4 linked regions of the Homo sapiens genome follow. The protein of the gene in region 4 interacts with the protein of the main gene of each other region in a pairwise test. Each region holds a gene or a part of one and is shown on either strand. Other genes may lie near its edges. The genes, in order: APPL2, TSACC, DOK4 and LIX1.

What was found.
Region 1: the proteins of LIX1 (region 4) and APPL2 interact in a two-hybrid assay, tested with the Homo sapiens proteins (one large-scale study listed by BioGRID and IntAct).
Region 2: the proteins of LIX1 (region 4) and TSACC interact in binary tests that used the Homo sapiens proteins (3 or more experiments, as listed by UniProt).
Region 3: the proteins of LIX1 (region 4) and DOK4 interact in a two-hybrid assay, tested with the Homo sapiens proteins (one large-scale study listed by BioGRID and IntAct).

The regions. Positions count from the first base shown.
Region 1 is NC_000012.12:105,185,149-105,193,298, forward strand, and holds part of APPL2 (DCC-interacting protein 13-beta), read right to left. Parts: intron 5,008-8,150; coding exon 4,843-5,007; intron 4,677-4,842; coding exon 4,624-4,676; intron 3,300-4,623; coding exon 3,125-3,299; intron 1-3,124. UniProt on the Homo sapiens protein: Multifunctional adapter protein that binds to various membrane receptors, nuclear factors and signaling proteins to regulate many processes, such as cell proliferation, immune response, endosomal trafficking and cell metabolism.
Region 2 is NC_000001.11:156,344,511-156,347,495, reverse strand, and holds the end of TSACC (TSSK6-activating co-chaperone protein), read right to left. Parts: intron 2,917-2,985; coding exon 2,788-2,916; intron 729-2,787; coding exon 514-728; 3' UTR 501-513; downstream 1-500.
Region 3 is NC_000016.10:57,470,877-57,478,062, reverse strand, and holds the end of DOK4 (docking protein 4), read left to right. Parts: intron 1-2,105; coding exon 2,106-2,213; intron 2,214-2,442; coding exon 2,443-2,557; intron 2,558-2,843; coding exon 2,844-2,963; intron 2,964-3,080; coding exon 3,081-3,270; intron 3,271-4,023; coding exon 4,024-4,162; intron 4,163-4,326; coding exon 4,327-4,450; coding exon of another isoform or gene 4,451-4,567; coding exon 4,568-4,686; 3' UTR 4,687-6,141; downstream 6,142-7,186. Other genes in the region: POLR2C (DNA-directed RNA polymerase II subunit RPB3), read right to left, coding at 6,944-7,088. UniProt on the Homo sapiens protein: DOK proteins are enzymatically inert adaptor or scaffolding proteins. They provide a docking platform for the assembly of multimolecular signaling complexes.
Region 4 is NC_000005.10:97,137,972-97,146,750, reverse strand, and holds the start of LIX1 (protein limb expression 1 homolog), read left to right. Parts: upstream 1-4,139; 5' UTR 4,140-4,174; coding exon 4,175-4,256; intron 4,257-8,779.

The sequences.
Region 1 (8,150 bases), on a different chromosome or scaffold from region 4:
GCTGCCAGTGAGAATTTCAAGCCAGTGGATCTCAGTGTGTTGGGCTCCGTGGTGATGGGATCCACTGAGCAAGACCACTTGGCTCCCTGGCTTCAGCCCCCTTTCCAGGGGAGTGAACAGTTGGGACTCGCTGAGGTTCAGACGCCACTGGGGTGCGAAAAAAATTCTCCTGCAGCTAGCTCAGTGTCTGCCCAAATGGCCGCCCAGTTTTGTCCTTGAAACTTAGGGCCCTGGTGGTGTAGGCACTCGATGGAATCTCCTGGTCTGCGGGCTGCAAAGACAGTGGCAAAAGCCTAGTATCTGGGCTGGATAGGTCTGTCCCTCACTCACGGCTTCCCTTGGCTAGGGGAGGGAGTTCCCCGACCCCTTGTGCTTCCTGGGTAATGCAATGCCGCACGCTACTTCTGCTTGCCCTCCATAGGCTGTACCCACTGTCTAACCAGTCCCAGTGAGATAAGCTGGGTACCGCAGTTGGAAATGCAGAAATCACCTGCCTTCTGTGTTGGTCTCACTGGGAGCTGCAGACTGGAGCTGTTCCTATTCAGGCACCTTGTCTGGGAATCAATTTTTCTTTTTAAATCTTCTAATTTTCTGTGTGACCTCTAAATGGTCTCAGAACCTATTCCACTGCAGGGGTATGTTTACTGTGGTGACGTATGCATAACGTCAGATTTATCATTAGTGATGTTAAGTGTCTTCATAACTTTGTGCAGCCATTACCACTATCTAGTCCCAGGACATTTTTATCATCCCAGAGGAAACTCCATCCCCATTAAGCAGTTACTCATTCCTCCTCCCACCCTCTGGCAATCTCTAGTCTGTCTTCTGTCTCTATGGATTTGCCTACTCTGGATATTTCATATAAACAGAACCCTACAGTATGTTGCCTTTTGTACCTGGCTTCTTTCACTTAGCACAATGATTTCATCATTCATCCATGTTGTAGCACTTATCAGTCCTTTGTTCCTTTTTAAGGCCAAATAGTATTCCATCATATATATATACAGGTTGAGTATCCTGTATCTGAAATTGTTTTGGATTTCAGCTTTTTTTTCAGATTTTAGAATACTTGCATTATATTTACCAGGATGAGCATCCCAAAATCCAAAATGCTCCAATGAGCATCTCTTTTGAGCATCAAGTTGGCACTCAAAAAGTTTCAGATTTTGGAGCATTTGAGATTTCCAGATTTGGAATGCTCAACTCTACCACATTTTGTTGATCCATTCATTTGATGTTGGGCATTTGTATTATTTCCACCATTTGGATATCACGAAAAGGACTGCTATGAACATTTGCGTATAAGTTTTTGTTTGAACACCTGTATTTAATTCTTTTGGGTAACTACCCAGGAGCCCGCCAAACTATTTTTTCACAGCAGCTGAACCATTTTATATTCCCACCAGCAATGGGTTCCAGTTTCTTCACATCCTTGCTAAACGCTTATTTTCCATTAAATATATATATCATATATATATCATATATATCATATATATGATATCGATATCATATATATCATATATATGATATATCATATATATATCATATATCATATCATATATCATATCATATATATATCATATATATCATATATATATAAACATCTGTGAGACAGTGTGCATGCGTGCGCACGCCATCTTAATATGGAGTGACATATCTCATTGTGGATTTGTTTTGCATTTCCCTAGTAACACATAGCATCTTTTCATGTCCTCATTGGCCATTTGTATATGATCTTTGGAAAAATGTCTATTTCAAGTCCTTGGTCCATTTTTTAATTGGGTTGTCTTTCTGTTGAGTTTTATAAGAGTTCTTTGTATATTTTGTGTACTACATCCATATTAGATAGAATTTGTGAATACTTTTTTCCCATTCTGTAGTTTTTCTTTTCACTTTGATGTGCTGTGGTTTTTCACAGTACTTTTACATATATTTTCCTTTGATCTTTTTGGTGGAAATTATTCCAGGACCAATAGGATTATAAGAACCATGAGCCCATTTCTGTAAAAGGTCCAGGACATAGTGAAAGAACAGGTTTTATTAATAAGAACTTAATTCTCAGATAAGGTTCATAATAAATGAAAAGGATGGGCTTAATGAATGGAAGAAGCTATATCCTAATTTTTGCTATAGTCCTAGTTACCTTTTTTGAAGCTAACGTTCATTGAGCACTTTTCATGTGCCAGTGAGTTGTAAATGTCTTACATATATTAGCACATTTATTCCTCATGACATTTATTCCTCATGACAACAGTGGAGGGTGTGAATAGTTACTTTCATTTTACAGCTGAAAAAACTGAGGTACAGAGGCTCAAAAATTTGCTTAAGGTCACATAACTAAGAAATGCCGAAGCCAGGAATAAACTGAGACATTCTGGCTCTAAAGCAGTGCTGTCCCTTAGAAATGTAATGGAAGCCTTATATGTCATCGAAGTTTTTCCAGCGGCCACATTAAGTGAAAAGTAACAGATAAAATTAATTTTACTTAATCCAGTATATCTAAAATATTACCAGACATGTGATTAACCTAAAAAATTAGTGAGATGTTTTACATCCTAAATCTTAGAAATTTGGTATGTATTTAACACTGAAAACACATCTCAGTTCAGGCTAGTTTTGCTGCAGATGCTACCTGTGGCTACAGTATCATACACCCATGTTCATAACCAGGATTTTGGTCATATCTGAAACCCAGATCGTATTACCTGAAACACTAAATCATGTAGTTAATATGGCCTGCTCTCTCTGTGATGGCCAAGTTATTTAGGCAGATTTTTAAGTTTTTTTCCATTATTTTTTATAAATAGTACTCTCAGAAATGAAAAAAAAAAAGCAAAACCAAAAAACTTCCATTTTCAAGCTCTGAGCTATAATATAGAGAATAAGTCTAGTGTGATGGCATCTTTGTGAACAACAGTATTCACTCACCACTGGATTTTTGAAGATACCAGTTCTTGTCTCTAAGGGAGCACTTTCTAGGCTATCTATCTTATGTAAAAAGTAGTGGGGGCAAAAGCAAGAGTAGTCTCTTCATTCCAGTACTAACATTTCAGATGGGTGCATTAGCCTTAAAAGGGGAATTAGCTGAAGCCATAAGAAAGTCTGAAAATAAAACTGAACGTACCTCAAAGATTGACTGGTGACCATCAGATGGGATTCTGTCATGCGGAAGATGTTATGAATAGCCCGAGCAGCCAATACTTGTCTCATCGCTTCATAAATCACTTCAGTAGTGCTGTCTGTTTTAACTGCCATTGATCCCAAAAACCGAACTATAAACATCTGCTGCAAAAGAGAATCTGGAAGACAGCATTTTCCACTCAGGATCTCATTTACTTCCTGCTGCTGTTGATCTGCATACCAGGGTCAGATGTGCTAGTTTTGCCTGCTTTCTGTGGAGGACTTTCTACCAAAATTTCTCAATACCACTTTTATAAGCCCAATATTGCCAAAGCTCTGCGTCTTCCATTTGTCTACATCTTGTCAGTTTGTTTGGAACTACTTCATTAGACTAGAAAGGCTTTTCTTCATCTATAAAATGAAATGATGGTGGTACCAGATGAACATCCTTCTAATGCTGAAACTCTAGGTGACTACATTGTACCTTTTCTCTGAAAAGAGTGAGTTCACTAGACAATAGAAAATTCATTACTTTGGCCCACTGATAAAGTCCTCTTAGAAAAGAAATTTTATTTGCAGGATATAAGATCTCATGTTGGGTCTCATGCAATTCATACTTCATGTGTATTACGGAAAGGCAGTGATGATGTTTCATAGCCTAAAGGAAGTCAGTCCTGGCTGCTGACAGTGGCGCATAACTTGACAAAACTGACTCCCAGCAACCATAACTAGAAGACCAAAGAAGGTTTTTTCTTTTTTTTCTTTTTTGAGACAGGGTCTCACTCTGTAGCCCAGGCTGGAGTGCAATGGCATGATTTCAGCTCACTGCAACCTCCGCCTCCCAGGTTCAAGTGATTCTCATGTCTCAGCCTCCTGAGTAGCTAGGATTACAGGCACCTGTCACTACACCTGGCTAATTTTTGTATATATATATATATTTTTGTAGAGACAGGGTTCTCACTGTGTTGCCCATGCTGGTCTTGAACTCCTAAGCTCACGTGATTCACCTGCCTCGGCCTCCAAAAGTGCTGGGATTACAGGCGTGAGCCAGCGTGCCGGCCATCAGATACGTTCTTAAGTACATTATAAGAATGTAAAAAACCAAAAATTTGAATTTGAAAGACTTAAATATCATTTGTGTCATCTTCAAATTCAAGAACAAGTTATTTGTGCTTTTGGTTTTCTAAAATGACACAGCGTATTTCCAGTTCACCAAGACTGCATTTGAATGTGATAACAGATTCAGATTTCACAACATTTCTATGCTATGCTACAAAAACGCTATGGCTAATGGTGAAATAGCTGTAGGTGGTCTTTCAGCTACCCCTCAGTTTTTATCCAAGACTTGCCTCCACTGCAGATATCTTACTAAACTTTCAGAACAACAAATCTTAATTCATACTCCTAATCATAGCTCTCTAAAACATGATTTCACATCTTATTTCAATGGCCGTTGTCATTTTGTGCAGAGGAAAGAATAAGGACACCAAACTAGTCACTTACCTTCTGCTTCTGGAAATGATTCATCCTCAGTTTCACCAAAAGGGTTGGTACGCCTAGGGGAATAGCCAGAGTTGAACAAACACGACAGCTGCAGCTAGAAGGGCACTTAACACTTGAACTGGAAATCAGAATGGCAACAGTCTTTGGTGGTGGAGGGGGACACAAGATACCTCAAATTTACTTTCAGTTCTCCCAGAGATAACCTCTCTCAGCCCATACCTGCTCCCTCTGTTCTGATCAAGGAATTCTGTAGCAGGAAGCACAATATCGAATTGAATCGGCGTTCCAGGCGCGATCAGCTCCTCTGCTTCAGGTAGACTGGCTGTTGCTTTGGGAACAATCTTGTCATTTTCATTTTCCATCTCTGAATTTTTCAGGTTCTGGCTGAAGGGGAAAAAAATCAATTCCCTTAACCTTACGCTTTTATAATCAAGTGAATACTTGTTGAAGGCTGAGGTGACTTTTATGAATGAAAATACAAGGGGAAAGATTGACCTCAATCCCTTAATCCATTCTACAAATAAACCTTCTTCAAACTTCCTTCATATCCTTGGCTAAAAACCTTCAGTCTGCCCCATTTCCTGCAGTTCTCTCTGCTGCACAGCATCCTGCACTGTGTTACTAGTTTTCTGTCTGTATCCTTCTCTGTGAGGCAGGTTTTGGAGGGCCTATGCTATAGCTAAGTCATATGTATTCTTGGAACATAGTAGGCACTAAAAAATGTTAGCTGAATGAACCAAAGGTCCTGGCTTGGCATTTAATCACCATCTGGCTCTAATTTCCCCAAAAGCCTCCCTTTCCACTCCTTTAATGCACCCTCTACGAGAGCTGTACCACACATACCACATGCTTTTCCTTATTTCCATCTTTATCCCAATTCTGCTGCTCACCCAACTCTCCCAACCCAGCTCAAATTCTTCCTTATCCACTAGGCCAGCCGGCACCCCGCCTCCCTCCTCTGAACTCCTGTGATTCTTCTCAGTAAGTCACAGGCACAGTCTTGCGGCCCTGTGTGCCTCCTGAGCTTCGCATTGTGCCCACACTCATTGCTGACATTGTGGCCCATCAAATACTGTGCTCTCTGTGGACAGACTAATCAGGAACCAACATGTTCTTCTCCTCCAGTCTCAGAATACTGTAATTTAACTTTTCAACGTTTTAAAAATCTTTTCTCCTCAGCCAGACTATAAACTCCTTTGAAGGGCAAAGAATATCAATGTATTTTGATTTCTTTCATTGCCTGGACCTTAAAAAGCTCTCAGTGATCTTTCTGTTCATTTGATATGTCAATATTTTCCTATTTCTCAAACATGTCAATAACTGAATGTAGTGTATCAAACTACTTTACAACAGGCATTTGACAAATGATCATAATGACTGGAATGTGGATGAAACAGTACATAGGCTTGTAGATGGTCACTGCAAGGCAAGCCCTTGGAGACCACTTGGTCTGACCTCCATTGTTAACAGAAAAGGAAACTGAGGCCTCTGGAGAAATTGAGCAGTTTTGAAGGCACTCAGTTACCTGGTGGGCGAGCCAGATTATAAACAGGGGTCTCCTCACTGCCAGGAGAGTGCATCTCCAGGATGTCATACTGCTTCAATAACCCTAAATGGGACAGTCACATCTGTTTGATCCTGTCTTTAAGAGAGGGCTGTGATATAATAAGTGGTAAGCACTGAAGAAAGCTATGAGTAGAAGCTTCAAGGGGAGAAAGTGAGTCTAAGATTTTGGCTCCCCAGAGAGTCAAAGGGGGGAGATAGATAACAATCAAGATAGGGTGAGGCCAGGTTGTAGAGGGCCCTTATACCGTCAGGTGGGGTCTGAACTTGACACAACAGTATAGGGAGCCACCAAAGACTCTGAACATAGGAGTGACATGATGTTAAGTTTCACCTGTACAGGATCTCCATGTCATCAGCTCTAATGGACACTTCGCAGTCATCATAATTGACTTAAAGCATCTAACACAGCTGATCTCTCCTTGAACTCTCCTCTCGGTTTCGGCTGGTGCCACATTTTACAGAGTTTCCTTCTACCTTTCTTGATGTTCCTTCTCAATGTCTTTGGCAGGCTCCTTTTCTACCCTAAATGCTGGAGTTCTTTAGGATTCTGTTGCAGGCTCTGCTTTCCCCTCCCTCTCCTTTCTCCCATAGAGGACCTCATCCACTGCTGTTCAGTGCTATGAGTCCCCGATTCATACACCCAGACCAGACGTTTTCTTTGCACTCCAGACCTGTATCATCCGTTGACTGCTTGACAACTCATTTGGGATGTTTCACAGGCCTCTCATGCTTAACATGTCCAAAACATGAACTCTTCTTTTTTTTAAAAAACACCATCTGCCCAGGTGTTCAGCTCCAACTGAAGTCATCCTTTGATCTGTCCTTTTCCGTCTACGCTTATCCATCAAAAGTCCCACAGGTTTTACCTCCAGAATAAGTCCACATCCATCTACTTTTCATCTCTGCCGTGATCCTGGTCTAAACCACCATCATCTTCTCTTGGGCTGTTGGGACGCCTCCTCACTGGCTACAGACTTGCTCTGTTCTGTGCTCTCCAGAGCAGCCAGAGCTAACTAACTTTGGAAAATGGAGAGTGGGTATCTCTGTCTCCATCACAAACACGCACCTCTCAGAGCCCTTCCACAGCTCCCCACATGCTTCCTTCTTGATCGACCCCTGCCTCCCTCCCCACCCGCCCTCATCCTGTCCCATGATCTCCACTGTCCCGTTACACTGCCTTTTTTCAGTTCCTCAGATATACTAAGATCTTCTCTGTCCTGTTACCTCCACAACTGCTACCAAGAATACACTACTTCTGGCTCTTTGCAAGAGTGGCTGCGTCTTGTCTTTCACTTTGCAGCTTGAATATTATCTTCACAGCCAGGCCCTGCACAGGTCTCCTCTTCACCCTCCATGACAGCACCTCATCTCCTTAACATTGGGGTGCTTCCCTCATTTTAACTCAGCCTGTGCTTACCTTTTGCCTGTTCTCCCCAGTAATCCCTGCGTTTTCTTACCTAGGCCAGGCCTGGGCAAATAGTAGATACTCAAATATTTGTTGAGTAGCTAGATAAATGAATGAACAGCAGATATATAGTAACTGCAGAATGAGGGAAGTCCACACATGGTACTTGCTTAGAAGTAAATAGCAGTTTGTTCCCAAGAACACAATTTCTCTGATTCTTTCCCCCCCCACTGTCATCAAAACATTGCTTTATTCTCAGTGGGCTGACCCTAAAAGAGATAGTATCCCTCTCCCCACAGCTCTGGGGCCATCTGGCAGCCACATCTGTCACCCATCCAATCACTGGGCTAATTCAGCTGGCTGGCTAGAGTCATTTTTTTTCCCCCCAGGGAGTCTTCTGTGTCCCTTCTGTGGGGTCCTTTTGGTCTAAGAATGTGACTTGCTTATTCTAGAATAGGGGGAAAAGTCAGTTACTGAATAATTAAATATAGGCTGCAAATTGTCTTTTTAGGAAACGTATCACACCTTCTAATTCCAAACCCCCCTAAACTATCCA
Region 2 (2,985 bases), on a different chromosome or scaffold from region 4:
CAGAACCAAACCATGAGCCAAAATAAACATATTTTCTCTACAAATCACCCAACTTTAGGTATTTCTTTATAGCAATGCAAGAATGGACTAATACGTCTACCTCTAGGTCTTTGTCCAAGCTTCCCAACTGATATGGAACTACCTGACTTCATCTGTCCATGCCATCCAACCCCTCCCTTCTTCAAGTGGCATCATGAAGCCACTTTCTCCAGCAAGATTCTAAAATTGGTCCAGTTGTATCCTAGTAACCTCCAGTGTTAGTTCTTAACCTCCATCCTCTTTCAGAATACCACTACATTTTGCAATGAATTGTCTGCTTTGTTAGACAGTAATCCCTGCAAACTCCTTTTGTAATATGTAACCCCAAGTGCCTTGTACAACGCTTTGCACTCAGTGAGCACTTATTATGAACCTGTGAACAAACTAACCATATGTAGAATACATATACCCAGATTCCAACAAGGGTTTACTGGGAAGAGAGAGGAAAACAACACAATAACTTTGTTCCACAATTCATTTACTGAATTGGGGCAGGTGATTTAACAATGGATTAGGAGATAAGGCTGGGAGAGAAGAGTTATTGCTTCCCCTCCCAGGAGCCAGTTGTGTCACAGATGCCTGTAAATGTTCCAAAACAGCCATCTGTTGTTGGGCGAGCTGGGTCTGAAGCTGGAGGTTTGCATACATACATTCCAGGAGTCCTAGGCATTCCTTGGGCTTGTGATCAACTCCAGAAGGAAAAGCAACGGAGGTGCAAGGGAACAAAGGAGAGAGATTTGGTAATTGTACTGAGGTTGGAAGGACCCTAATAAAATGACCTCTCCAATCTTTCCAGGCACAACCCAACCCAGACATACCTTTGCCCAGCTGTCACCTCCCAGTGAGGCATACCTGGCTATCCTATTTTAATTTGAAATCAATCACTGGAACTTATTACCCCCTCCCTTGTTTCACTTTTCCCATAATATTTATGGTCATATGGCATATTTTATAATTACTTAATTTTTGTCTAAGTCCCCCTTCTAGAACGTAAGCTCCAGGAAGGCAAGGATTTTTATCTGATTTGTTCACTACTTTAACCCTAGCACCTAGAAAAATGCCCAGCATATAACAAATATTTGATGAGTGAATGAAATGGTCTGGGAGGGAGGCCTACCTTCCCTAGAGCTCAGGGGATACCTCAGCCTCCTCTGTTACTTGACATAGTGTATCATTAGCAGTGACCTGAAGTTCCCTAACTTCAACCATTCTTGCTACATTGGTCCATTGTTTTTTTTCTTTTTCTTTTTTTTTTTTTTTTTTGGAGACGGAGTTTCACTTGTCACCCAGGCTAGAGTACAATGGTACGATCTCAGCTCACTGCAACCTCCACCTCCTGGGTTCAAGCAATTCTCCTGCCTCAACTTCCTGAGTAGCTGGGATTACAGTCATGTGCCACCATGCCTGGCTAAGTTTTGTATCATTAGTAGAGACGAGGTTTCACCACGTTGCCCAGGCTGGTCTCGAACTCCTGACCTCAGGTGATCCACCTGCCTTGGCCTTCCAAAGTGCTGGTATTACAAGTGTGAGCCACTGCACCTGGCCAGTCCATTCTTTTTCTAATATTTTTCTTTTTTCTTTTTTTTTTTTTCAATGGAGCCTTGCTCTGTCTCCCAGGATGCAGTGCAGCGGCACAATCCTGGCTCACTGCAACCTCCACCTCCCAGTTTAAGCAATTCTCCTGCCTCAGTCTCCCAAGTAGCTGGGATTACAGGCAGGTGCCACCATGCCCAGCTAATTTTTGTATTTTTAGTAGAGATGGGGTTTCACCATGTTGGTGAGGCTGGTCTCAAACTCCTGACCTCAGGTAATCCGCCCGCTTTGGCCTCCCAAAGTGCTGGGATTACAGGCATGAGCCACCGAGCCCTGCCAGTCCATTCTTTTGTTTGTTTTGAGATGGAGTTTCACTCTTGTTGCCCAGGCTGGAGTGCAATGGCCCAGTCTTGGCTCACTGCAACCTCCGCCTCCCAGGTTCAAGCAATTCTCCTGCCTCGGCCTCCTAAGCAGCTGAGATTACAGGCACCTGCCACCACGCCCAGCTTATTTTTGTATTTTTAGTAGAGACAGGGTTTCACCATGTCGGTCAGGCTGGTCTGAAGCTCCTGACCTCAGACAATCCACCTGCCTTGGCCTCCCAAAGTGCTGGGATTACAGGGATGAGCTACCGTGCCCAGCCACTTTTTCTAATATTTTACACAGCCAGTTAACCTTGGTAATTATATTATCTGCTGTTTGTATTTTTATCAGTCTTGACTTCTTTGTTGGACTCTGAGGTCCTCAAAAACAGGGGTTATGACTGTCTAGTTAGTGCCCTGTTGGGTTCCCCATAGCTATGCCAAATACCCACTGACCTCCCCAAGGGAAGATGAATGATGAAAATTCAAAGACCCTGAGACTGAGCTAATAGTTTCCTTCTCTAGCCACCGTTTTTTAAAATTTTACCTTCCCAAGTGAACAGGGGTAAACCTGGCCATCTTTTAACTAACATTACCAGTAAGCAATGAGAGGTTCACTTCACTCCTGCCTAGTCTAGCAAAAGTGCTAACAAGCAAGGAAACAATACAAGTTGGTAGAACTGGGATGATAATGATATCAATGAAACTAAATAATCAACAAGCTATCACGGAAAGATCTATAGATGCCTAACATAGATTTGGCTCTTGATCAATAGGCGACAGCTCAAGCCACCTCCTCCATGCAACCCTTCCCCCTGTTGAGTCCATTAGAAAACCCTCCCTACATCCTTACCCGAGGGCAGCTTTGTTGTCTGGATGTTCAGAAAAGTGGCTGGTGGGGAACTTGCTTGAAGATTAATATAGCTGGGGGAGGGTTTTGCTCTACAGAGAGGCACAGCATTAGCTTCCTCTTTGGCTGGAACTAAATCAGAGATAACTAAATCAGAGCTCATTCCAACAAGGGACAGCCTTTCTAATTAGATCCCTGCAC
Region 3 (7,186 bases), on a different chromosome or scaffold from region 4:
CTTAGCAGGTCCCCAGGGGCCAGCTGGGCTGAGGCCTTGCCCAGGGCAGAGTGTGCCAGGAAGGCACCAGCCACAAGGGCAGCCACTTGGGCTCAGTATCAAACCTGTTCCAGAGGGAGACTGAGTGGCTGACAGGTGGGCACAGCCTGGATGGGGAGGTGGGGCATAGCCAGGCCCTATCCATGCAGGGAATTCTCTTCCCTCTGAAGCCAGGAGCCTCACTTCCCCTGGTGTGAGAGGCTGTGGTCCCTCCCCAGCAGCCATTCTCATCTCAGCCCACAGAGGTGAGGGGGGAGGGGCTGAAAGAGATCAGGAGCCGGCTCTCCTACCTGCCAGGGCCTTTCTCCCGCGGCAGAGCTGTGGCAGAGTGTTTCTGAAGCACTGATCAAAGCCCTGTGCGAAGTGGGAAGGAGGGCTCTTGAGCGCGTGGCTCCCTGGGGCTGTGAATGTGTATCCTGTAACCAGGCAACCGGCATGCTCAGGCCCCCAGGCCTTCTGCCCCTGATGCTGCGGGCTGCATGGAGCCCACCCTGGCAGGGTGTATCTGGGTCGGCAGCATCCATCCATTCATCCATCCATTCATTCACGGTTCCTTCATATGGTCATTCACTTGTTTAGCATGGCTGTTAATGAGGCTACCAGGATATGAGTGAGGATTCTGTGGATAAAATTCAGTGTCTGTCTTAAGGGAGCGCTGCAGCTGAGAGCTGAGGGCTGCTGTGGTTTAGGTGGGTAGGACAGGGGCCAAGCCAGGGTCAGGGGTGCAGGAGCAGACATGCCTCCTAGGGTCCCAGATAGGAGCCAGAAATGGCCTGGCTCTGAGTGGTATCTTGAAATGGGGGCTGCCTAGGGCCACTGCACCCTGGGACCCTGCCTGCCAAGGACCTAGTGTACGCATGGCACAGTAGGGCCGAGGAGGGGTGGGGCCTAGAGGCCCCCTGGCCTCCTCTGCTGTGCTCTCGGCCACCACTCAGTCTCCCTACTGTTTCCAGTAAGAGGAACACCAGAGATGCCTGGGGAACAGGCTCTGTCGGGCTTTTGGAATGCCCGCTGGAAGGAGTAGGTAAACCCCAGCCACAGACTTTGGGCAGAAAAAAGTCTAGGCAGGAGGGAGGGGTCATGCAAGGGCAGCTCTGGCTGGTGGCTGGGGCCAACTCCCTCTCCACCACCCATGAATGATAGGCCAGTCTGTCCCTTCAATCCTAGAGTGGTCACTCCCCTCTGCTCCCCACCCCCTTGGGGGAGTCCCTGAAGCTACAGAGAATGTAGGTAGTTTAAGGTACAGGGGCATCAGCAGTGGCCAGGGCCAGGAGGGAAGGCACCATGCTGTGGGAGGAGCCTCAGATTCCTAGCTCCACCCCTTTACCTCAAACAGCTTTGGGTTCCCAGCTGGAGCAGGGCCCCTTACATTTCAGGGTTGGTAAGAGAATGAAAAGAGAGGGTGAGTGAAAGCCCCAGGAGACAAGAGTGGGGGTTACCTTTGTAAAGACCCTCACCTGACTCAGAGAACTAGGGGCACGGGGATGTACAGGTGGGCAGGGGGAAGGGTCTAATCCCTATCCCCAGGAGACCCCTCTGTTGTGGCTGGCACTGCCTGAGCCCTGGCCAGATCCTGCAGTGGGCTGTGAGGGTCTGCCCTGGATCTAGACAGCCTGCTGCAAATACCAGCATCACCATTCCTTAGTGTTTTGATGCCTCCCTTTCCCCATCTATAAAATGGGGATGATAACAGAACTGATCTCAGGAGTGGCCCTGAGACTGTGCACAGTGCTAATAACAGGTGTGAGCAGGAAGCACTCAGGAACGTTGGCTACTCACACTAAACTCAGCGGTGCACACAGTACATGGCAGGTCAGGAGAGCACCCTTTGTGGAACAGCGTTTTGGAGCCAGCCAAGAAGTCAATGACTTTTCAATTTGGGGAGGAGGCTTCTCTCCCAGGGAGGTGACACTGCTGGTGACTCCCACCCCCGGTGTCCCCAGGCTGGGGCTCCAGGGAAGGCTGTGCGGCACCGCCCCCTGTGGCAGGCAGGGGTGGCTGCAGGGCCATGCTGGTGGGGTGGGAGTGGTCCAGGGAGGCCTGAGCCCTGTCATCTCGCTCCACAGATCTACCGGAGGTGCTGGCTGGTGTTCCGGAAATCCTCCAGCAAGGGGCCCCAGCGGCTGGAGAAGTATCCAGATGAGAAGTCGGTGTGCCTCCGGGGCTGCCCCAAGGTTAGGAGGCCTGGGCCCTAGCTCCCCCAAGTGGCAGGGCTGTGGGGGATGGAGAGAGAGAGAGGGAGAGAGGGGAGAGAGGGAGAGAGGGGAGAAAGGGGGAGAGAGGGAGAGGAGGAGAGAGAAGGAGGAGGGGGGAGAGAGGGAGGGAGGGAGAGAGAGAGAGAGAGAGAGAGAGAGAGAGAGAGATGCACTGGCCTGGCTAAGTCCCTTGTGGATGCTGTCCCAGGTGACTGAGATCAGCAACGTCAAGTGTGTTACGCGGCTCCCCAAGGAGACCAAGCGGCAGGCGGTGGCCATCATATTCACTGATGACTCGGCACGTACCTTCACCTGCGACTCAGGTGAGGCGCGAGTATGGGCCTCCATCTGCCTCCCCTGGGGTGGTCTTGGTCAGAGGTCCAGCTAGGAGCGGGCAGAGCAGGGCTAACCCTGGGTGGAGATGGTGGTGTGGTGTGTGTGGGGTTGGGGGTGCTTTCAGGGAGCAGGCCCTCAGGGTTGAGGCAAGACAGGCAGGCAGAACCCACTGTCCTTACCCTCCCTGCTGTGCATGGTGGCATAAGTCAGGCTGGGCAGACGGGGTGGGCTACCGGGCTCTGGAGCTGCATGATGAAGTAGCATTTTCTTCAGAGCTAGAGGCAGAGGAGTGGTACAAGACACTATCTGTGGAGTGTCTGGGGTCCCGCCTCAACGACATCAGTCTGGGAGAACCTGACCTCCTGGCCCCAGGGGTGCAGTGTGAACAGACAGGTGAGGCCGGGCCCTGGCCCTGGGGGTGGGGAGGGGGAGGAGGAAGAGAGGAAGGGAGGGAGGAAGTCCCCATCTGGGGCAACTCTGGTCCCACTTGTCCACCCTCCCCCACTCCAGATCGCTTCAATGTCTTCCTGCTGCCCTGCCCCAACCTGGACGTGTATGGCGAGTGCAAGCTGCAGATCACCCACGAGAACATCTACCTCTGGGACATCCACAACCCCCGTGTGAAGCTCGTCTCGTGGCCCCTCTGCTCACTGCGCCGCTATGGCCGGGATGCCACACGCTTTACCTTCGAGGCTGGCCGGTAGGACCCTCTCGCCTCCCAGCCCTGTCCTACTATGGTGTGATGGTGGCTGCCATTCACTCTGTGTTGGGCACTGTGCTAGGAGCTTGGTTTACTTATTGGCCTAGCAATCCCAAGGGGGAATGTAATGTTCCCATTTTACAGACGAAGAAATGAAATGGAGGCTTAGAGGAGTAACTTGCCCACAGCATGCAGGTCAAGTGAAGCTATTTACCAAAAATCATATACTACTTTGGCTTAAGTCAAATGCAGGTTCAGGCACTTACTACTTCTGTGACTGTGGATCTGAGTCTGGGTTTCGGGGATAATAAAGTACCTAACCTCCTAGAATTATAGTGAAGACTGGGTATCCCCTCACTTGAACTCTGGAGTCAGTCTGCCTAGACTGAAATTCCATATAATCCTCTGCAGAACCTTGGTTGAGTTACTTAGCTTCTGTATGCCTCAGTTTCCTCATCTATAAAATGGTTTGGGAAAATGCATAACAATGAGGAAACCATTAATGGTACAGAGACCAGAGGGAGGTGGTAGAGAAAACTGAATGGGTTAATTCTTATAATGCATTTCAAGCACCAGCTGGTATAGAATATGCTCAGCACATTTGCACCGTGTGGTCGGACCCCCAGACCACAGCCCTACCTGTCCTCCCGGCCTGGAATGCAACCACAACTTGCAGTTGCAAGAGAGCCTAACTAATCACATGCATGTCTGTGGTGGGTCCCCACCATCTTGCCCTCTGTGCTGTGTCCCCAGGATGTGTGATGCTGGGGAAGGACTCTATACCTTCCAGACACAAGAGGGGGAGCAGATTTACCAGCGCGTCCACAGTGCCACCCTGGCCATCGCAGAGCAGCACAAGCGGGTCCTGCTGGAAATGGAGAAGAACGTGAGGGTGAGGCAGCGGGCATCAGTCCAGGGTACGGGGGGAGGGGGGAACGGGCGGGCAGGCAGGGCCAAGTGCCTGGGGTACACAGTGGAGGCAGGTAGGGTCTTGGGGTGGCTGCTCAGGGATACTGTAAGCCACTAATGGGAGTGACCCCTTCCTTTGCCCCACAGCTGCTGAACAAGGGCACGGAACATTACTCGTATCCCTGCACACCCACGACCATGCTGCCGCGCAGTGCCTACTGGCACCACATCACTGGTTCCCAGAACATCGCCGAAGCCTCCAGCTATGCTGGTGAGTCGCTTCCATGCCCCACACCCACCTGCCAGGAGGCTTTGTGGAGGATGAGGCCTATTGGGCAGGGGTCTTTTGACCTAGCTCTGAGTTCTGAGCCTGCTTCTGTGCCCACAGGTGAGGGGTATGGGGCAGCCCAGGCCAGCTCGGAAACAGACCTCCTCAACAGATTCATCCTGCTAAAGCCAAAGCCCAGCCAGGGGGACAGCAGTGAGGCCAAGACCCCATCCCAGTGACCACAGTGCTGGCGAGCACCGATGACTGCTGGGGGCTGCCTGCTGCGGGGCTGGCTGCAGTGTACCGTGGACAGCCTCAGGGGGCTGTCGGCCAAGAGCCTGGAGAAAGGGAGCAAGCTGCCCCCTCCTTGCCCCCAAGGATGAGGCTGGACTGAGGCAAAGGGCTGGCCACACCACCTGAGCATGTGTGAGGGGTTGGAGCTACCGTGGGACTATATACTGTTAATGATTTTAATATATATGGCTTATGACATACTCTGTATCAATGAGATCCCCTCACCCTCACCCCATCCTTCCCCACCAATACACACAAATTTTTTAATCCCATGACCAGGCCACGGTCAAGGCTGTTTTTGAGTATGAGTGCAGTCGTGTCCATCCTCCATGGCACAGCCCTCCTGCTGCCAGGACCTGCTTGAACTACCAGGGCCACAGGAGGGGGATAATCAGAGCTTGAGGCTGGCACTCTGACTGCTGGCTTTTCCCAGACAGCCCAAGGGCCGGAACAGCAGGTGGCTTCTCAGTTCCTCTGGGCCTGGAGTGACACAGGAAGGATCTGCACTTCCTCTGTGCTGCTTGCCAGCCTTGCAGTTGGAGTTTTAAGCAGAGGTGACATCTGGTTGACGCCTCAGGTGAAAATCTGGTTTTAAAATGTAACTTCTGCACAGGCTCCTTCCTGCTTTGTAGGCTGGGAAGATGCCCCTGGGGTAGGGGTGCTGATTACCTCAGCCATGTGGAGGAAGGCTGGAGCTTGTTCCTGCCCCAGGAATAGGCCAGGAGGGAAGGCCGCAGCAGGACTGCCGTGGGGAGCACCCCTGCTGCCCCCCTCTCACTGACCAGGGGTGGACAATGCCCAAGCAGAGGGAGCCCCCTTGCCCTGTTTGGCCACCCTCTGGCCAGCCAAAAGCACTCTGAAACCAAGACCTTCCCATTTCCTCCTCCCCACATGGTGCTGAGGCTCCCTGCTGCAATGCAATTAAAGCAATTGATTTTCTAGTGCTGGTATTTGTTGACTACCATGCAGAAGGGCTATCTTTCTATTCACGTCAAACTTTTGGTTGTGTGGGGTTTTTTGTTGTTTTTTGGGTTTTGTTTTTTAATACTTTAGGGTCCTGATTTGTGGGAACAGACCTTCTTGTAAATAACCACTATTTGAGTTGTGGCAGGAGGATGATAAAGCACGCGGCCCCTCCCAAAGGAGCCCTTGAGCTAGGGAGGTGGTGCAGTCAGCCTCGCTCTCAACGTGACCCGGGGAATGACCACCCAGAGGGATGAGCTAGCCTGTAGAGGGGAACTGGGGTCCAAAGGTCTTTGGGGAGGGAGGCAGAGCTGGCTGGCTCAGCTAAGTGGCACGATGACGCATGAAGGAGATTATGTTGTGCTCTTTATTGCCAAAAATAAACACTTTTAAAAAGACAACTTCTGTTAATCAATAAATATCCTTTCCTTTCTGTACTGGATCTCTGGTTTTCTCCAGGCTGCCTAATTAACTGCTTTGTGCATGTTCCTATCTGGAGACAGTGCTGAGGGGTTAGGGCCAGAGCCTTCATTAAGGAGAAATGAAATACTCCTCCTGTGTATGTGGGAGGGGCCCTTGCTCCTGCGGCTGCTTCCACCCCCACCCCCACCCCCACCCCCACCAAACTAAATGATCAGGTCATTGGAGGTGAAGGGGTTCATGACTGCTGGACAGAGAATGAAATATCATGTTTATTTGGTGGGGAGGGGACAGCCAGGGTCTAATGCTATTCCAAAAGGTTACTTCTCAAATTAGGGACACCTGGGAATTTGAAGCGCTAGCAGGCCAGCCCTGGGGCAAGAACTGGAAGGGTTTATAGGCCCCCTGAATAAAGGCTATGGCACTTGATCCTCAACACCAGACATCTAAGGTACAACTGAAAATGACTCATTTTGGACAGAAAGGGTTTAGAGTAAAGAGCTGGACTAACCAGGAGAGAAGTCTAGTTGGTTCCCTACAGGTGCACTGGAAACACTCCAGCAGGGACCTTCTGGGATCTGGGGAGCACTGCTGCCAATTATTAACAGCAGTCAGGGCCAGTAAAGACCTATCCTGCCTAAACACCACTGCATCCCTGGTAATCTATCTATGACCCACTTCTAGTTGGTACTGATGTCCTGCCAAGAAGCTCAACCAACAGTAGACTAGATTCTCAGAAACGAGAAGAGTCTGAAGAGAGACCCCCATATCCAGCTGCTGGCCTGAATCTCCGTTTTTGCTGAAGCAGGCAAGCTGCAGTTAATTTATGGTTAGCACATCACTCTGGATCTCGTGGCTTAATTGAGTTTGTAAATCACTCAGTTTCTTCTTCAATCCTGAGAGGGCTGACAGGACAATGGTTTCAGGACGCAGAGAGCCACAGGACTCCACATTGTAGTAAAACCTAGGAGGCAAGAGTCCAGTGAGTGCACTGCGAGGCAGGCTGGCCGACCCGAGCTCTGGCCATGGACAACCCTTCCTCCTTCCGGGTCTTGGCTCTGT
Region 4 (8,779 bases):
AACCTTATGGAAATTGAAGATTAGTTTTCTTTTTTTCTTTCTTTCTTTTTTTTTTTTTTTTTTTTTTGAGACAGTGTCTCACTCTTGTCACCCAGGCTGGAGTGCAGTGGCGCGATCTCGGCTCACCGCAACTTCCGCCTCCTGGGTTCAAGCAATTCTCCTGCCTCAGCCTCCTGAGTAGCTGGGATTACGGCATGCGCCACCAAGCCCAGCTAATTTTTGTATTTTTAGTAGAGATGGGGTTTCGCTATGTGGCCAGGCTGGTCTCGAACTCCTGACCTCAGGTTATCCACCTACCTCAGCCTCCCAAAGTGGTGGGATTACAGGCGTGAGCAACTGCACTTGGCAAGAAGATTAGTTTTCTCAACAAATTCTTACCTTTCATTGTAATTAATATTAGAAGTGAACATCTTTGAATTCCTCATATTGATTTGTGTCTCTCATACTGATGAATGGATAACAATCAGATTGACTGTGGGAATAGAAGTGATTTGTTTGAAGACCACTGCACCCTTAGGAAACAAATATATGAACTTACAGAAGGCTAAAAAATCTGTGATAATATTTGTGCTCATTTGTAATACAGGCATAGAAAAATGTATGTTAGAACTGAAAGAGAGCATCCAGCTTAATCCCTTAATTTTACAGAAGAGGACTCTGAGCCCAAAAATGAGTGGCTTCTTTAAGGTTATATAGATAATGAACATGAAACCCTGGTCTTAATGATCCCACGTTCAGTGTTGCTTTCACCAAAATGCAACCAAAATATTTTTAAATACTGCTGGAATTATATTTAAGCATATAGAAATGCCCATTTATTGACTGAAATCCAAACATTTCTTTTTTTTTTAATATTATCAGGCTTACTTCTTTGAGAAGTCCATATCATTTTTCTTGGTTCTCTAGTGGTGATATTAAATATCTTGGTTTTCAATTCAATATCACATTGAAAGTACTTCATTTATACTTTGTGTCCAATCAATGGATAATAGCTTTTTTGTCCACAAAGCATCTAATTTCTGTTTTAGATGATAAACTCCTGGACAGCAAGGACATTGACAATTTCCTATTTGGCACAGCTCATATAAAGTGCACTTTGGGACCCTGTTTAAAGAAAATGTCTTAACATGAAGGGCCACTTCTTTCAAGTTCTTATCTTATACAATGTCTTTGCACTCTGGGGCAACCCTGTGTCTGTGTTCTGTGTGGCATATACTCCCTGCGGGCATTTGCTAAGTGATAGTCATGATATGGTTTGGCTGCGTCCCCACCCAAATTTCATCCTTTTTTTTTTTTTTTTTTTGAGACAGAGTCTCACTCTGTTGCCCCAGCTGGAGTCCAGCAGCACAATCTCGGCTCACTGCAACCTCTGCCTCCCCAGGTTCAAGCAATTCTCCTGCCTCAGCCTCCCGAGTAGCTGGGATTACAGGCATGCACCACCACGCCCAGCTGATTTTTGTATTTTTAGTAGAGCTGGAGTTTCACCATGTTGGCCAGACTGGTCTCGAACTCCTGACCTCAGGTGACCCGCCTGCCTCGGCCTCCCAAAGTGCTGGGATTACAGGTGTGAGCCACCACACCTGGAACCAAATCTCATCTTGAATTGTAGTTCCCATAATCACCACGTGTGGTGTGAGGGACCTGATGGGAGGTAATTGAATCAGGGGGGTGATTACCCCCATGCTGTTCTCATGATAGTGAGTAAGTTCTCATGAGATCTGATGGTTTTATAAGGAGTTTTGCCTCTTTGCTTGGCACTTCTTCTTCCTGCTGCCATGTGAAGAAGGATGTGTTTGTCTCCCCTTCCACCATAATTGTAAGTTTCCTGAGGCCTCCCCAGCCATGCTGAACTGTGTGTCAATTAAGCCTCTTTCCTTTATAAATTACCCAGTCTTGGGTATGTCTTTATTAGCAGCATGAACTAATACAGTGAGTATAATAGGAATTATTATTCTAGTTCGGTTCCATCTATTTCCTTTTATGAAGCCTGCTCTTCTACAAACTAGCTGAAGAAGCTGATCACATGGAAGGTATTTCATTTTTATACAGTCTTTAAAGGTCTACTTTCAGTTCATCATAAAATACAACCTAGTTATGGAATCTGAAAATTGGAAGAAACACTGGAAAGCAATCTTTGTGGCTACCCTGGAAAAATATTTTAAATAAAAGTTTGACAATCCTCAACAACCTCCTTCAACAAGTAACATTGGTTACAACCACTAAAATTAGTTATTTTATATCTGGTATAAATCCTTATTATGGAAAAGGAATCCTGTGACTTATATTTATGTCTTCTATGGAAAGATTATTTAACAAAGTGTTACAGGTAGTATAGATCATGAATAGGTAGAAAAAGAATTTCTGTTTTCTTAAGATCTTTAAAGGCCAGGCATGGTGGCTCATGCCTGTAATTCTAGCACTTTGGTAGGCCGAGATGGGTGGATCACTTGAGGCCAGGAGTTTGAGACCACCCTGGGCAACATGGTGAAACCCCCTCTCTACTAAAAATACACAAATTAGCCAGGTGCGGTGGCGTGGGCCTGTGGTCCCAGCTACTAGAAAGCCTAAGGTGGGAGGACCGTTTGAGACTGAGAAGTCAAGGCTGCAGTGAGCCCGGATCATGCCATTGCACTCCAGCCTGCATGACAAAGTGAGACTCTGTCTCAAAAAAAAAAAAAAAAAAGGATACAGCTAGGGACTAAATTAAGCCTTGCATTTGAATTCAGGAGCCACTCTTCTGGAAGCCAAGGCTTGTTACCCCCCACAACCCTCCCAAATTTTAGTCACTTCTATTGGGCAGGGGCAAGTAAAACCTGACAGACTGTCTTACAGCTTGCCTGGGAACATTTGTTTCCCTATTTACCCTTCAAAGTGAATCATTCCCAAGGTTGACTTTAATTAATTCTGATGTAATTCACTTCCTTTCACTTAATAATTATTAAAAATTTCAGGGCAGGGTGCAGTGGCTCACGCCTGTAATCGCAGCACTTTGGGGGCCCAGACAGGATGATTGCTTGAGCCCAGGAGTTTGAGACCAGCCTGGGCAACACAGTGAGACCCCATCTCTACAGAAAATTTAAAAATTAGCCAGGCGTGGTGGCGTGTGCCTCCCAACTACTTGGGGTGCTGAGATGGGAAGATTGCTTGAGTCCAGGGCTCAAGCCCCTCACTTGAGTCAAGGCTGCGGTGAGTTATGATCACGCCACTGCACTCCAGCCTGGAGGACAGTATGAGACCCTATTAAAAAGAAAAATAAAACAAAGAAACAGGACGAGAAAATACATATATGTTTCTTAAGGTAGTTATTGAAAGATTTTTTTAAAAAATTGAGACAGGGTCTTACTTTGTCACCAAGGCTGGAGTGCAGTGGCACAATCTGGGCTCACTGCAGCCTCGACTTTCCAGGCTCAAACCATCCTCCTGCCTTAGCCCTCCAAGTAGCTGGGATCACAGGCATGCACCACCACACCCAGCTAATTTTTGTATTTTTTGTAGAGTTAGGGTTTCGCCATGTTGCCCAGGCTGGTCTGGAACTCTTGGGCTCAAGCGATCTGCCCGCCTCAGCCTCCCAAAGTGCTGGAATTACAGGCATGATAAACTGCACCCAGCCCCATAATCTTTATAGCACTCCTTTACCAAAGAAGAATTACACTGAAAATTTAGATTTATAGGGATTATACTGTTAACATATAGCTGGCAGTCCTGAGCTGGAAGCTGTCTTGTCATTCAGGAAATTTCCTGGAGAAATAACCTTCCTGATTCCATATTCCTGGGGGCAACACAATTGAAGATGGAGGGCCAGAAGAAATACTCAAGTCAGAAAGCTGCACAGCATTCAGACAAAATCTGGTTGGAGAGGAAAGCTGTTTTCATAATTTAGCGAGCTTCCCCAGCTAGCCTGTAGGTGGGTGTGTTTAACAGAAGAAAGCAATGGGAACCCGCCTGTCAGCCAGCCTTTCGAGCTAATTAGCTCAGCATACAACAAAGATAAGTGAGCCTGGGAAGAGGGCCCCCTGAGGGGTCTTTAGATTCTGGGAAATGTCTGATTGGCAGATGTTAAAAGGGATTCCTTGGTAATCCAGTGCATCAATGAGCTGCAGAAATTCAGCCCAGGACTGCAAGAATTCAGGCATGAGGACACTCTGTACAGGAGGCTCACACAGGCAGACCCAAGATGGACAGAACCTTGGAATCTCTGAGACACATCATTGCCCAAGTCTTGCCTCACAGAGATCCGGCTCTAGTCTTCAAAGACTGTAAGTACTGAAGGGGGAAAAGTTTTTTGACTTTTTAGAAAATAGTCCTAAACGTCAAGTCACATCCTATTTAAGTAAGATTTCTCCTAAATCTCTGCAGTCGTATGCTGTGTTCTAAGTGATATTTTAACTTGTTCCTGACTTCAGCCAGAAGAACGATTTCATTTCACCTACAGGCATTAGGCACTGGGTTATTCTGTCAGTGATACATCTTGCTAACTACTTAGAAGTCTCTTCTACAATCCAAGACCTGCCTAAGACTTAATGAACTTTTTCTGATGCTTTTTAAGTAAAGCAAAGCTGACTGGTGTTGAGATTAAACCTAAAAATAATTTGGAAATGATACTAGAATATATCAATATTTGTTAACCTGTTTAATACTCCACAACACATATTAGCTATGTTAATTCAAGTATCGTGTTTGTCTGAAAATATTTGTTGCAAACCAGAATTAACAGTAAATCACCACTGAACTTTTAAATTTTGATAACAGATTATAATGCTTTAGTTAAAAGGCCAATAAAATGAGATGCCTCCTAACCTCAGCAACACTCCCTGTGTGGACCCCCTACCACCATCACCAATTTATACAGCATGGCAAAGTTATTTCAAAATCTTTTTTTTAATGATTTAAAAATAATTCAATCAAGATTTCCAATTCTAGCAATACTATTAAACCATTTGTCATATAACTTCGTTTCTGGAACCAATTTGATTTCCTGCTGCTGCAAAACAGACTATCTTCATGTTGTATCTTATCTACAGTGGGTTTCATATTACAAAGGGCTTCTGAAATAGAACTGCCCAAAAGGTAAAATGCATATGGAATTTTTTTTAACTTCAATAGGTTGCAGCTTTCCTCTTTGTGAATCTAGTTGTGTTTGTCTCCATCAAAACATCAATGGTTTGAATTTTTGCTTTCTGATTGCTGAATAACGTTCCATTCCAGATGTCCTCTTAGCTTAGATTTCTCATATGTATGTTGAAGAAAGAGGAATGTTAGGCCATTTAATTCTATAAATTTTTCCTCTTAGATGTTAAATTGTAACCAATCTGTCCTTTAAGGCATAAAGTGAAAGCCTTTTCTTTCTCTAGCTCTCTTTTTAAATATTGTCTTTAGGCATTTGCCAATAACTATGTTAGATCTAATAAAAATCACTCTCTCCACTACTCTAGCCTGGAGTCTATTCAGGTTTGTTATGTTTTTTAAGCGAAAAGGGGAGGAAAGAATGTCTCTCTCCTACAATAGAACTGATTCACTAGTGAGGGATAAAAGGGCTCTCGGGCTGCCCAAGCTTTGGATAAATTGTATAGGACCAGGGTTCTTATGCTGAGCATTTAAATAGGGGAAGCAGTTAAAAAAAAAATAGGGGGGACGTTTTTCACTGGCCCATTGAAAACTTAATAAGTTCAAATGTGAAACTGTATAGCTCATTTTTTAGCTGAACTAAATTGCTGCGATTGTTTACAGTTTAGAAAAGAAGATAGACTAGAAAAAGGATTACAATAAAGCATACATTAAGTTCTGTCATCCAGGACTTTGCAGGACTTCTTTTATATGGGAGAACAAATAAGTGTCCTGTTTTATATATTTCATTCATTAACATAGAACCTATATTTGACCAGAGAGCATTGCCTGTTTACCCTAGAATGGACTGCTACTCGGCAACTGCTTGCATGGCTTAATAGACGTGAATATTAAACTGCCGATTCTCTCCCTTCTTTTCTAATCTGAAAAATGACTAAATGACAGTAAGCCAAATGGCACATTTCTGTACCAGGAGTTTTCCTAACTTTAAAACATCCAACCACTTACCAATCTCGTGGAATAAGTGGGAATGGGCTGCTTACTTTCTGGGACAGGACATTAAAAGTCTGTCTGGAGCCTATGCCATTGCCCTGGCAAGCTGTAGGTGCTGCACACGCCAGAGTTTGGCATATGGTCCCATTTTCTTTGGCATACCCATAAGTTGCTGCCACCACACTCCTATTGGCAGCCTGTAAAAAGCTGCCACCAGCCTTGAATGGCAGGTTCTGAGCAGTCCCCTCTCCTCCTAGTCACTGCTGGCTCCTCCTCCACTCTAACCTGCTCCAAGCTCTTTCTGCCAGAAGGAAAGAGCTGAGCACTTGAGCACATCACTGCCAATTCCTTAAGAAAAATTGCTACCTTACTTTCCTACAAGATGAAAGCTGATCCAAGAATTTTTAAAACCCAGCCCAGTTGAACAAAAGAATAAACACACACAAACACACAAACACACACACATGCACACACAAAACACTTTTAAATTTTTTCTTAATTTATCTTCCATGAATGCAAACACAGTTTTTCTCTCTTCACTCTTTGGTTATACATAATCCAGGGAGTGTAAATGATCATGCAATTCATTTATTGCCCTCAGTTGGCTTTTGATTTGCTTAAAAACAAGCAATAGTAACTGAATTTTCTCTTCAAGTTGGTTAGAAAAAGCACCCAGAGAGTTTTCTGGTCTGAAACAGATGCACATGGGAATAGTTACATTCATTTAAAGAAATAAAATTCAAATGCTTTCTCAGATGAGGAAGCTCTTCAAATGGTATTTTGCAATACATTAAACCTGTCATTTTATTTTATACAAGGCGTTCATCTGGCAATAGTTGTGATTTGTTTCTTTTTTTATTTTCTCTTCTAGAAGGAAATAAATTCCATAACACTTTTTTCCTTTTCCCTATTTCACATTTCATATGAAAAATAATGGAAAGAGGTTTTAAATAAGATGGACTCCCAATTTGAAATTTGTTCATCTAAGCTGACACTGGACTGTTCTCCCCTGCATAAATGTCTCTATTTTAAAACAAGTAGCACTGGAAGTCTCCACACTACCAGGCAGAATCTCTGCAAAGTATAGCTTGTCTCCATATTGCTTTCCATTCTTGGCTTTGTGCAATATCCAATTTCGTTTCATGTGTCATGCATCACAACCAAAGCTGAGCTATCCTAAAAGCAGCCCCTGTCCACTCTTTTGAAGAAGTGTGTTAACTTACTATTCATTTGCCACTGTTTGACAATTCCTTGCGTACTTTCTCAAAAGAAATCACCACATGACTTCAAGATAGCTATGCTTTCAGATCCTAATCTGAGTGTTAACTCTTCATATTACAAGAGCACAATACATTTATCTGCCATCTTTGAGCTCTTTCTTCAACCATTTAATAGTAAGGCTAAGACATCAAGTCCTCATCATGTGATAGGCACTGTACTAGAAACATTTATTCTTCACAGTAAGCTAGTAATGTAGGTACAATTGTTGTTAGAGGTGAGGAAACTGAGGCACACAGAGGTTAAAATGACGTGCCCAAGGTCACTCAAGGTCACACAGCTAGTATGTGATAGAGCCAGGAATCAAATTCTGTCTTCCAACTCCTTACCTTGAAACACTATGAGACATTGCCTCTCAGAAGTGCTAGTTACCATGTCATTAGTGTTGTAATAGCAGTACAGGTTGAGTATGCCTTATCTGAAATGCTTGGGACCAGAAGTGTTGTAGATTTCAGATTATTTTTGGATTTCAGAATATTTGCATTATATATACTTTAGCACCCCAAATCTGAAAATCTGAAATCTGAAATGCTTCAATGAACATTTCCTTGGAGTCTCATGTCAGCAATTAAATGTTCTGGATTTTGGAACATTCTGGATTTTAGGTTTTTGGATTTGGGATGCTCGACTTATATCTGTTAGGAAAACAGAGGGGAGAAAAAGGAACTCTACCAGGAGCATAGAGGGAGCCCATTAAATAATCACATTTGAACAGAAGTGTGACAAGAAAGTGGTGAGGGGCAGATAATTTTTGATGAGATAGAACAGCTTGTCCAAAGACAAACTGGGCAATACAAGAACCATGTGCTGGGGGAGGCAGAGACAGACTGAGGAGGCAGGTTGGGTCATGCTGACATGCCGGCAATAGGGAGCCATTGGAGTTAACAGTAAATTAGTTCTGGAAGTTTATGGCCTTATGTTGCGTTGCGGAAAAGTTTATATTGACATTGGTTAGAGGTACACATCCGAATACCTAAGTTAGGGAACACTGCAGCTTTTTCTTAGCAAGAAACCATTTGCCAACTCAGACAAGATGCAAGATTTGTAAATGTCAAACATGCCTATGAGGAGAAACCACTTTCACTGACTGAAGGCCAAAATCAGGGCAAACTTTCTCAAAAAGATTGTTTAAAAAGTATCTTAATTGTCACTGTAGCCATGAGAATGAGTTGGTTTCTAGCATTGACTTATGAAGTGACATGTAAGATTTCACTGAGATTTTTTCCCAAATTTTATAATGAAAAAGTAAGATGGATCCTTTACTAAGCGTTGAAAAATTGGAAGCAAATTTCTCACATATTTGAGGTGCATTAACTCTTCCATTTGGGAGAACATTTTTCTGCATGAAAGGTTTTATTTATATCAGATAGGTGAATACTTTACTTCAAAGAGTACGTTTTTTGCCCTTTGGAAAAACTGGACCAGACTACAGGGCTATTAAAAA